Linked DNA regions of Homo sapiens. The protein of the gene in region 3 purifies or fractionates together with the protein of the main gene of each other region. This does not show direct contact. Each region holds a gene or a part of one and is shown on either strand. Other genes may lie near its edges. The genes, in order: CRTAP, SIGLEC12 and MIA3.

Evidence for each region.
Region 1: the proteins of MIA3 (region 3) and CRTAP purify together in Homo sapiens (affinity purification with mass spectrometry; 3 studies listed by BioGRID and IntAct, with this or other methods). This does not show direct contact.
Region 2: the proteins of MIA3 (region 3) and SIGLEC12 purify together in Homo sapiens (affinity purification with mass spectrometry; 3 studies listed by BioGRID and IntAct, with this or other methods). This does not show direct contact.

Annotation. Positions count from the first base shown.
Region 1 is NC_000003.12:33,111,646-33,115,397, reverse strand, and holds the start of CRTAP (cartilage-associated protein isoform 1 precursor), read right to left. Parts: upstream 1,385-3,752; 5' UTR 1,321-1,384; coding exon 850-1,320; intron 1-849. UniProt on the Homo sapiens protein: Necessary for efficient 3-hydroxylation of fibrillar collagen prolyl residues.
Region 2 is NC_000019.10:51,495,049-51,498,800, forward strand, and holds part of SIGLEC12 (sialic acid-binding Ig-like lectin 12 isoform a precursor), read right to left. Parts: intron 3,240-3,752; coding exon 2,970-3,239; intron 2,398-2,969; coding exon 2,301-2,397; intron 1,929-2,300; coding exon 1,832-1,928; intron 1-1,831. UniProt on the Homo sapiens protein: Putative adhesion molecule that mediates sialic-acid dependent binding to cells. The sialic acid recognition site may be masked by cis interactions with sialic acids on the same cell surface.
Region 3 is NC_000001.11:222,662,979-222,666,730, reverse strand, and holds part of MIA3 (transport and Golgi organization protein 1 homolog isoform 1 precursor), read right to left. Parts: intron 2,734-3,752; coding exon 2,583-2,733; intron 1,423-2,582; coding exon 1,112-1,422; 3' UTR 1-1,111.

The DNA.
Region 1 (3,752 bases), on a different chromosome or scaffold from region 3:
GTGTTAAATTCTAGATGAAAGAGAGAAACAGCGGAGAGGGCCAATCCTGATGACTCACGGTGCACGAGTTCCCCTTTAAGCAGGGATGTGTCCTTGCAAGGAGTCCCTGCCCTTCCCTGGCCTCAATTTCATCCTCTTTAAAAGGAACTAGTCAGCTGGGTGCAATGGCTCACGACTGTAATCCCAGAACTCTGGGAGGCGAGGTGGGAGGATCACTTGAGTCCGGGAGTTCGAGATCAGCCTGGGCAACGTGGCGAAACTCTGTCTCTACAGAAAATACCAAAAAATTAGCTAGGTGTGGTGGCGCGCGCCTATAATCCCAGCTACTCAGGAGGCTGAGGTGGAGGATCACCTGAGCCTGAGGAGGTCAAGGCTGCAGTGAGCCATGATAGCGCCTCTGCACTCCAGCCTGGGCGACTGTGAGACCCTGTCTCAACAAAAAATAAAAATAAAAGGTACTTGTCGGCTCCTCAGGTCTTCTGCTTTATTATCGCAAGTCACCGCTCACTTGAGAAAAAAGGCGACTTTAATGGTATATACAGAAAAGAGGCGTCTGCCCTCAAATAACAGAGAACATTTATCAGGCACTTTGTTGGGTGCCTGGCGCTGTACTGCGTTCTGTGTACGTATTCTCTACCTTAGAGTTACCCTTCAAGAAAGGCATTTTCATCTCTAGTTGAGATGAAGAAGGAGACAGGACTTGGAGGAGACCTTTGGCAGGGCTGGATGGGAGGGAGCCAGGTCTAGAACTGGAGGGGCAACGCGGCCCCGGGCGCAGGGGCGGGGCTAGGGCCTGGAGGCTGGGTCAGGGGCGGGGCCGGGGCCTGGGACGGGGCGAGGCGGACTTGCCTTGAAGTAAGCGAACTGCAGGAACTTGTAGGGCTCGCGGCGCTGGAAGTCCGCCAGCACCTCGCGGCTGGGCTGGGACTGGCGGAAGGCTGGCAGGCCCTGCTTGCAGCGCTTGAGGCAGTGCGCGCGGCGCAGCAGGCCCCCGAAGAGGCGCAGCTCGGGATAGCTGGCGAGGCCGGCGGCGGGCTCGGGCTGCGGCGCGGCGCTGCAGTTGCGGTGGCAGAAGGCCTCGCTGTCGCGCAGCAAGCGGTGCAGCCGCAGGCTGATCTCCAGGTAGCCCACGCTCTCGGCCCAGTGCTCGCCGCTGTACTTGTCCAGCGCGTGCCGGTAGGCCGACTCGAGCGGCATCAGCTCGTCCCGTGGGAAGCTGCGGAAGCTGTAGCGTTCGTATTGGGCGCGCCCGGCGCGCAGCGCGCAGGCCACGCACAGCAGCGCTAGCAGCGCCGCGGCCCCCCGGCGCCCCGGCTCCATCGCGCCCGGCGAAAGGAAGGAAGGAAGGGACGAAGGAAGGGAAAAGGGGAGGGAGAAGGAAAGGAAAGAGGACGGTGCGACGCGGCGGGCCCAGTGCTTTCGGGGCGGGGACGCCAGCCTCCGGCCCGCCCCGTCCGGCCGCCCCTCCCCACCCAGCCGGGGGATCTGGGCGCCAGCTGCCAGCACCTAGAGGGTGCCCGGGAAAGGCGCGCTGCGCACTGGTTCACGCAGGCTGATGCGCATGATGGGACTCTGCCGCTCATTCACTTGGAGACCCGCCTGCAAGGCCGACGCGGCCCTAATAGATTATATACATCGGCCCTACGGTCTATATAATCTACGATCTTTATATTCGTTTGGAGGTTTGTGAAAACGAAGATTCCTGGGCTGTGCCCCCAGAGTTTCTGATTCAGAAAGTCTGGGGTGGAGGTCTGACGATTTGTGTGTTTAACCAGCACCCTGATGAGGCTAATGCTGCGGGCCCAAGGGCCGCACTTTTAATAGCACTGCCCAACCTTAAATTTTAGTGAGAGAAAAAGACAGTGCAAAAATAAAATTAATAAGGATGTCAGCACTTTGTAAACTGTATAGCTAGTCAGGTTGAAGATGTGCACACCTTATGAATCTGCAACACCATTCGGTGGAATATGCTGGAGAAGCTTGCGCGTGTGCATCAAAAAATATGGATGGAATGTTAATGGCAGCACTTTTAAAAAATCTTTAAACTTTTAAATCTTGAAATAATTTACAAGAAAGCTGCAAAAACAGTACAAAAAGTTCCTATATACCCTTCATCAAGATTCACAAGTTGCTAACGTTATACCACATTTCTATCTTTACATTTTTTTCTGACTCATTTGAGATAGGTTGCATGTATCAGGCCCACTGTCCGTTAGTCTTTTTTTTTTCTTTTTTTTTTTCCTTTTTTTTTTTTTGAGACGGAGTCTCGCCCTGTCACCCAGGCTGGAGTGCAGTGGCGCGATCTCGGCTCACTGCAACCTCCGCCTCCCGGGTTCAAGCAATTCTCCCTGCCTTAGCCTCCCGAGTAGCTGGGATCATAGGCACACACCACCATACCTGGCTAATTTTTCTATTTTTTACTAGAGATGAGGTTTTGCCATGTTGGCCAGGCTGTTCTTGAACTCCTGACCTTAGGTGATCTACCTGCCTCTGCCTCCCAAAGTGCTGGGATTACAGGCGTGAGCCACCGTGCCCAACCCCTTAGTCTTTCAGTATGTATGTCCTAAGAATGAAACTACCAGACAATCAAATTTAGGAAATTTAATACTGATAGAAGACTTTAATCATGTTCCATTTCCGGTTATGTCAGCTGTTCCAATTATGTCTTTCATGGCACTTTTTTCTCTTAGGATGCAGTCCATCCGTGATCACTGTTACATCTAGTCTATTTCATATCCTTTAAACTGGTTCCTCGGCTTTTCTTGTCATGCCGTTGTCATTTTTGAAAAATATAGGCCAAAACAGCAATGAGATACCACTACAAAATCCAAAACACTGACAACGTCACATGCTGACAAGGATGTGGAGCAACAGGAACTCTCATTCATTGATAGTGGCAATGCAAAATGGTACATACAGTTTAGAAGACAGTTGGGCCGTTTCTTACAAAACTAGGCATACTCTACTCATACAATCCAGAAATTGCACTTCTTGGTATTTACCCAAATGGGTTAAAACTTATGCACACACCTGCGAATGGATGTTTGTAGCAACTTTATTCACAATTACCATAACTTGGAATCAACCAAGATGTCCTTCAGTGGGTAAGTGGATACATAAACTGTGGTATATACACACAATGGAATTTTATTCCAAGCCAAAAAGAAATGAGCTATCAAGCCATGAAAAGACATGGAGAAGTCTTAAATGCATATTACTGGTTGAAAGAAGCCAAACTGAAAAGGCTACATACTGTGTGATTCCAGCCAAATGACATTCTGGAAAAGGCAAAACTATGGAGACAGTAAAAGGATCAGTGGTTGCTGAGAATTATGGAAAGGGAGGAATGAATGGGTAGAGGACAGGATTATTGGAGCAGTGAAACTATTCTATATGATAGTATAATGGTGGATATATGCTATACATTTGTTAAAATCCATAATATGTACAACACTAAGAGTGAGCCCTAATGTAAACCGGACTTTGGGTGATAACGATGTGTTGATGTAGGTTCATTGATTGTAACAAATGTACCATTCTAGTGCAAGACATTGACAGTGGGGGAGCTTGCGCATGTTGTAGGGTCATGGAGTATATTTGAACTCTGTAGTTTCCGCTCAGTTTCGCTATGAATCTAAAACCACTCTAAAAAATAAAGTCTTTTTTTTGTTTTTTGTTTTGTTTTGAGATGGAGTCTCGCTCTGCTGCAGAGGCTGGAGTGCAATGGCATGATCTCAGCTCACTGCAATCTC
Region 2 (3,752 bases), on a different chromosome or scaffold from region 3:
GATCTAGCACAACCATAAACTTAATAAAGTTGAGGTGGTAAATTTTATGTTATGTGTTATTTTCCACCGTAGATGGCTGGATGGATGGATGGGTGGATGGATGGATGGACGGGTGGGTGGGTGGATGGATGGATGGATGGATGGATGGATGGACGGACGGGTGGGTGGGTGGATGGATGGATGGATGGATGGATGGATGGACGGGTGGGTGGGTGGATGGATGGATGGATGGATGGATGGATGGATGGACGGACGGACGGGTGGGTGGATGGATGGATGGATGGATGGATGGATGGATGGATGGACAGACGGGTGGGTGGATGGATGGATGGATGGATGGATGGATGGATGGGTGGGTGGGTGGGTGGATGGATGGATGGATGGATGGATGGATGGACTGACGGGTGGGTGGGTGGTTGGATGGATGGACGGACGGACAGACGGACAGATGGATGGATGGATGAATGGTTGGATGAATAAACAAAAATAAACCCACAAGCCTTCTCCTTGGAACTTCCTATTTCTTCTACATTGCATTTTCCCTAAAGCATATATCTATCTTTATATTTTATTCATTTGTTGTTTTATTAGTTTTGATTAGTTGATTGGTTTGGCCATATCCCTCTGTATAGAATTAAACTTCGATGAGCCCAAGACTTTTAAATGTTTTCCACAGATGGGTCGCTGGCATCTTCTCTTAGGAGATGCTCTATAACTTTTCCTGAATGAATTAATGAATGAAGGGATGGATGTTACTCTGCTACTCGAAACCTTCCACAGGCTTCCAGTCACATTCAATACAATCAATAAATGATGAGTGTAATATTTATATCAGGGCATGAAGGATGAATAGGAATCAGGGAGTGGGGAGAAAAAAGCATCTGAGGAGGAGGAACAGCCAATGTGAAGACGTAGAGACACAAATAACCTTGTTGGTGATGACACTGGAGTCCAGCGTTGATGGAGCATGGAGCAGAGGCAGGAGTGGCTGGAGGCGGGGCTGGGATTGGAGCAAAGCCAGGGAAGCCCTTACCCAGAGCACAAAATTAAAAGGGTGCCCCAAATCTCAGCAATGAAGATGAATACAATTTTAACACAATATTTAAAAAATCAAAATTAATATAAAAAGTCCATGGAAAGCCTGGGCGCGGTGGCTCACGCCTATAATCCCAGCACTTTGGGAAGCTGAGGCAGGCGATCACCTGAGGTTGGGAGTTTGAGACCAGCCTGACCAACATGGAGAAACTCCGTCTCTACTAAAAATACAAAATTAGCCGGGCATGGTGGCTCGTGTATGTAATCCCAGCTACTCGAGAGACTGAGGCAGAATTACTTGAACCCGGGAGGTGGAGGTTGTGGTGAGCTGAGATCGCACCATCGCACTTCAGCCTGGGCAACAAGATCAAAACTCTGTCTCAAAATAAATAAATAAATAAAAATAAAAACAAAAAATTCCTGGAGAACAAAGATTTAAATAAACCCAGATTAGTGACAGTGCTCTGCTGAGCCAAATGGAACTTGAAGCAAAAGCTATTCAACGTGCAGAGGAAGCAGACAGTGATGGCTGTGGAACGTCCCTCCAGGCCGGGAAGGGGAGGCAAGAGGCAGGGAGGTGAGGAGGTCCCAGACAGAGATCCAGAGGCTTCAGCAGTGAGAGGGGTCAGGATGGGATGGGGAGGGCAATGAAAGCTGTTCTTAGGAGGAAAAAGTGGACAGGACGTGATTTTTCGGCTGTAGGGGAAGAAAGGAAGGACAGTGAGGAAGTAATCCCCTTCCATGCCTGGCCTGGGAGAAAGCAGGGGAGAAGGGCTGTGATTCAATGCTCACTCACCTGAGAGGCTGAGCCCCTGACAGCGTTTGCGTCCTCCATGCCTGTATCCCCCACGCCCACTGCTGGCCTTGCCGATTTCTTCCTGCAGGACCTCACTCTGAGTGAAGAGACCAGAGAGCCTTTCAGTGTGGTCAGATCGGGGTGCAGTGGGCAGACCAACCCCTGCCCTGTATTTCCTATTGGGGAGCTGGAGGGGTAACTGAGGCGGGAGGGGAGTGGTCCCATTCCAGAGACCCCAATGTCGAAAACAGAGGCTCTTTTTTCCTGGGCAGTAGGGTCTGAGGTTTGCCACAGACATGGAGCTCCACAAACAGGGGCGCTCATGAAATTCTTACCATGCACCCATGACCTCATTCTGGCCCTTGCTTCAAGCTCTTGACCCATCCAGGTCCTTCCAGGTCTGGCTTCAGGGATTTTGTTCCCAGCCTGCCCTCCCCCAAGGCTCTTCCTCCCCAGGGTCAATGCTCACACAACGAAGATGATGCAGAAGTACAGGAAGACCAGGGCTGTGGCTCCAGCTCCCCCGAATGCCCCTAGCGTCACTCCTGATATAGGCCTCATTTTGCCTGAGGATGGATTGGAGTTGTTTTGGGGTTTACCCTCCAAGAACTGGGCCTCTTCTCCTCCCACTGCCTGTAGGGCCCCAGACTTGGGTACCCCAGTCCCGCTTCCCGGACAGAAAGAACAAGGACGGAAGGGAACTTCTCCTGAGGTCACTGAGGCATGAGAGTGCTGGGTGCAGTCTGCCTTTATTTAAAATTTTGATTAGTTTTCACCATGGAATTATTTTACAATAATTTTTAATTTTCGAAAAGATAATCACATGGCAAGATTATTTCTCTTGCTTGCTGAGTTGTTTTATTTTTGGTTCTTAAATTGTGTGCCCAAAGTGAGTGCCTCACTTGCCTCACACTAGTCCAGGCACTGGAAAGCAAGGCCCTTGTATCCCCAAACACACTTGTCCAGGCCCCAGCTCCTCCCCTCCAAGATTAACTCCTCCCCTCTCCCCACCCCGCACTCACTGCTTGGCAGCAAGAGGACTGTGATGCTGTGGGTTGCAGGGAAATTCCAGGTCTCCCAGCTGGACCCTGAGGGTGGGACATGTGTGTTCTCCTCCTCCAGACCCTCCCCTACCCACCTGTGTACTCGTTTTGCAGGGAGAGGCTCAGGGAAATGTGCTGGGAGCCTAGAGGGTTCTGAGCTCGGCAGGTGAATTCCCCTTCATCCTTCACATGCACTCGAGGCAGCTCCAGCACCCCAAGGTTCGAGGACTGTGAGGGGCTCAGGGTCAGGCTCCCCCAGGTCCAGCTCAGCCTGGCAGGGGGATTGCTGTCGACAGCACAGACAAGGTGCAGGGACTGGCCCTCCAGGACTGAAAGGGCCGAGCCATTCCTCAAGGTTGTGGATGCTGTAGAGAAAGAGACAGAAGGGCAGAGAGAGACAAAGTGATCGAGGCAGGGAGGAAGGATACAGAAAGAGAGTGGTGAATGGAACAGACACTGATACATGCTGAATTGTAGGGACATATGCACGTTCACTGCTCACTGTTGGGGATGTAAACTTGTCCATCTTTAATTAGAACAATTTCACTCTATCTTTCAAAATCAGAAAGACATATGACACTGCTATATTTTGCTTTTAGGACTTTATTCCATACACTTAGATATTCCTTGTGGGAGTAGATACAACAATATTCATTGCAGTGTTTGTGCTGTAGGATAAAATTAGTGCCATGATCTTCCATTAGAAGATGCCACAAAATCAGAGACTATTCAGACAGTGGAATGACACACAGCCCTAGAGGAGGGTGCAAACAGTCTCACTACTGACATCAAACCACCTCTGAGATCTTCCAGGTGCACAAACCAAGGCTCAGGACAGCCTGGACAGACCCTGGTCGATTCTGGGGACAGACTCTGCT
Region 3 (3,752 bases):
TTAATTTTGGAATAATATCTGTCGCCCCCATTTCCCCCTAAAACAGAACTGATTTCAACCCTTGGTTGCTGACCTAGGGCATGTTATAACCCTCACAGTCCTAAATCATTCTTTCTCATGGCATTATACTCTTCCAATCTTTTTATTATATTCCTCAAAAATCAGTGGCAAGGAATGGGAAAGATAGATAAGGGACTGTACATTTTAAAATTTTTAAAGATTTCTATACTTTTATGGCCATGACACATCATTTTCATTTTTCTGTTGTGCACCCTTTTTCTACAGGAATGGTAAAAACAATGGAACATCAGGTCAAACAACTCTTGCTACTAATGTAAACTCACTCTCAGAAAACCATTCTCAAATAGACAATGAGGATCGTAAAGAAAGCATGTGAATGCTATACAAGTGGGAAATAAACTTCTTTGAAATAAAAAGACGTCACTTGTAGAGTTCACAGGTGACGGAGGAGCAGCCGGAAGTGTGCCACCAGCCACCATCTTCAGTTCTGGGAGCCTGAGTTTACATGTTCCCCAAATGGCACAAGCCTCATAACAGTCCAATGAGTCAACAGACACTTGGGAAATATTAATAAACAAATTTTTATGAGCTATTACTACAAAGAACTTCAGCAAGAGGGGAGATAGTTTAGTGATCTTTTAGTAAACATTTTTAGCGTAACAGTCTTTGTGACCAGATAGTTTAAAAAAACGCTTATAAACACCATTGCTCCGTATTCAGCTGGTGTACACTAAAAATAGGATAATGGAAATACATGTTCTTAAAGCATTTCCACAGGAAATGTTCATATTTTTCATGACATTCTAAATCATTTTGCAATTACATATGCTACATTAGCTAAAACACAGGTATTCTTTATTGCACATTTCAAAGTTGTAAGGACGCTCTAGCTTAAAAGGTGATTTTTATTTAGGGAAGAAATGACATTTTTGAATTGTTTGGCTCAAAAATGCACACTGCCAAGGCAGCTTAGTTCTAACAACAAACCTTTTAAAATAAACTTTTGGATTTTGAAGCCAATGAAATCCTTTACTGTAATGGATAATGCACAGTACACTTTCTTTCCAATGAAACCTCAGAGGTCATAGTTTTATGGGCTCTGTTTTAAAGCCTGTGAACAGTCCTGGCTAGTGCTCTGAGAGGCAGGTGGAGGCTCATCTCTAGAGCCTGACGGCAGTAAGTCTCTTACAGCAGGTGGTGGTGGGTATTCCTGGGGACCATGGGTTGGGGGTGGTAATCGGGTACCAGGAATAAAGTACTCTCTTGGGCCAAGTGAACCTAAAGGTCTAAATGGTGCGTGTCCAGGTAAAAATCCCCGAGGGTGGAGAGGCAGGTCCCGTCTTCCTGGTGGAACGCCTGGTGCAAATTCTCTTAAGCCTAGTGGTGGACGCATACCAGGGCCTGGAAAACAAAAATTATTTCCAGTAAATTCCTAGGAACGTATTTAAATTAAGATAATGCCAGGTATGTTAATATAGTCTGTCATCCTTTTTTTTTTTTTTTTTTTTTTTTGGCGGCAGGGTCTTGCCTGTCACATGGGCTGGAGTGTAATGAGTGATCATGGCTCACTGCAGCCTCAATCTCCCGGACTCAATCAATCCTCCCACCTCAGACTCCCCAGTAGCTGGGACTACAGGTGCACGCCACCACTCCCAGCTAATTTTTGGATTTTTTGTAGAGATGGGGGTTTCACCATGTTGCCCAGGCTGGTCTCAAACTCCTAGGCTCAAGGGATCCACCTGCCTCAGCCTCGTCTAATGAATGCTGGGATTCATAAAGTGCTGGGATTACAGGCGTGAGCCACTGTGCCTGGCCTGCCATCTTTATCTGAAAAAGAGAGATAGATTTGTACTTGGAAGTACTATATACCATACCAAGAAGACAGACTAAATATGGCTTCATTGCAATAAAAATTTTGATAAATTCCATTAACTACTGTGTATCAGTTAAAAATTTATGCAGTAGCTCAAGATGTACCTAATAAATGCCATAAAAATTAAGGTGCTTGCCCTGCTGGAAAAGGCTTTCCAGCTCCATCTAATTAAATTCAGCAGCATTCATTAGATAGCTGTTAAATTCTACCTTCTCTTTCATATCTCCCTTCTTTGTATTCCCAAGGTGAGGGTTGAGGGTTTTGTCTTTCCTTAATATTCTGTGACCTACTGCTTATGCTTCCATTATGGGTGATTAGAAGCTTTATGTTGTAGAATGTGTATATTTGTGACCTACAGGACATCTTAGTTAGGGGATGTATTTTATCTACCTTGCTATCCATTGCAGAGCCTAGTACACAGCCACAGATGTTCAATGTGATGAATATTTCTGGCTTTTTATAAATAGCCCCTTTCCTTGTTCTATTAGAGACAACTATTGCCCATCTAATCACAGGAGATTATGTAGCACCCTTTGTGTCTGAAGAAACTTGGGGAAAAGTTACGGTGTACTCAATCAGCTTCACTGCTGCATTGCAAAGCCCCGCAATTGCAGTTGTTTTAGCAAGGGATAGATGGAGAAGATGAATGTGCTTTACAAGTCAATTACTACTGTTCAGATCATCTTACCAAAGGGTGGAGGAAGTGGCCGAGGCCCAAAAGGTCCGCAGAGCTGAGGTGGTGGTCCATATCGAATGGGTGGTGGTACAGGGCCTCCCATGGGGGTGCTCATGAGAGGGACTCCTGGGAAAGGAGGGGGCCCTTTTGGAGCCATATTAACCTGCAGAGTAGAAACAATTGAAGTTTTGAAATACTATGGTATGACAGACAAAAGCACCAACACCAGTAAAAACTAAAACCCAATGAAGCAGATGTCAGGCACTTGTCCAAAGAGCAGAATTAGTGCAAAAAACTCTACCCCTCTCATTTGTTCCCACTGACAAGCTTAGAAAGGTTAAAAGTATGCCACAGGAGTGAACACTTGCTGTATCATATTATTGCTTACATCTGCAAATGGAAGGGAACGCACAGGTTATAAATGGAGGTCATTCCTGACTAATGATAGAAGTTACGCCATTCATACATCTATTTCTAAGGCAGTCACTCCCTCTGCACATCCCTCCTATCAGAGTAATTTCCATATTAAGAATGCAGAGAATGAAAGGGAATGAAAAATCCATTCTCTACCATGTAACAGCGATTATTCAGAGTACCTTCTGTAGGCCCTACATATATTAACACAAATTCTGACATCTCTAAATCTGTAATAGGACCATCTTGTTCTAAATATGCAGGAACACAGGCGCAGAGAGTATTAGATTTGCTGATGGTCACACAGCATGTAAGAGGCTGGCTGGAATTCCATGCCAGGTTTGACTCCAAGGCCACGTTCTTTCCACCTCTGCTTCTCCTTTCTAACAAAGTAGTCTCTACACTCTTCGAAGTCTCCTACTTCAAAGGGGTCTCGGGTCTTATCCAAGCTGCTCTTGGATAAAAACATTTCTCAAGAAATGTGTATTCCTGGAGTCCTGTGCTGGAACTTGGAAGTATTTTCCAAGAGAAACAATGTTATGTACACAAATTATACAGGCACAGCTCTATTCATCTTCATTCACTAGTAATACTGTCTACTATGAGATACTGATTAATCACTTCCTATGGGAAAGTGGGTTGGAAACTCTCAATCATTAAAATTATTTTAATTTCAATGTCGAGAATCACAGTGAGGTATGATCAGAGGACTTACCAGCCATAACAGCTATACAAGTTACAAGAGAATACACTTATGTGGACACTGTT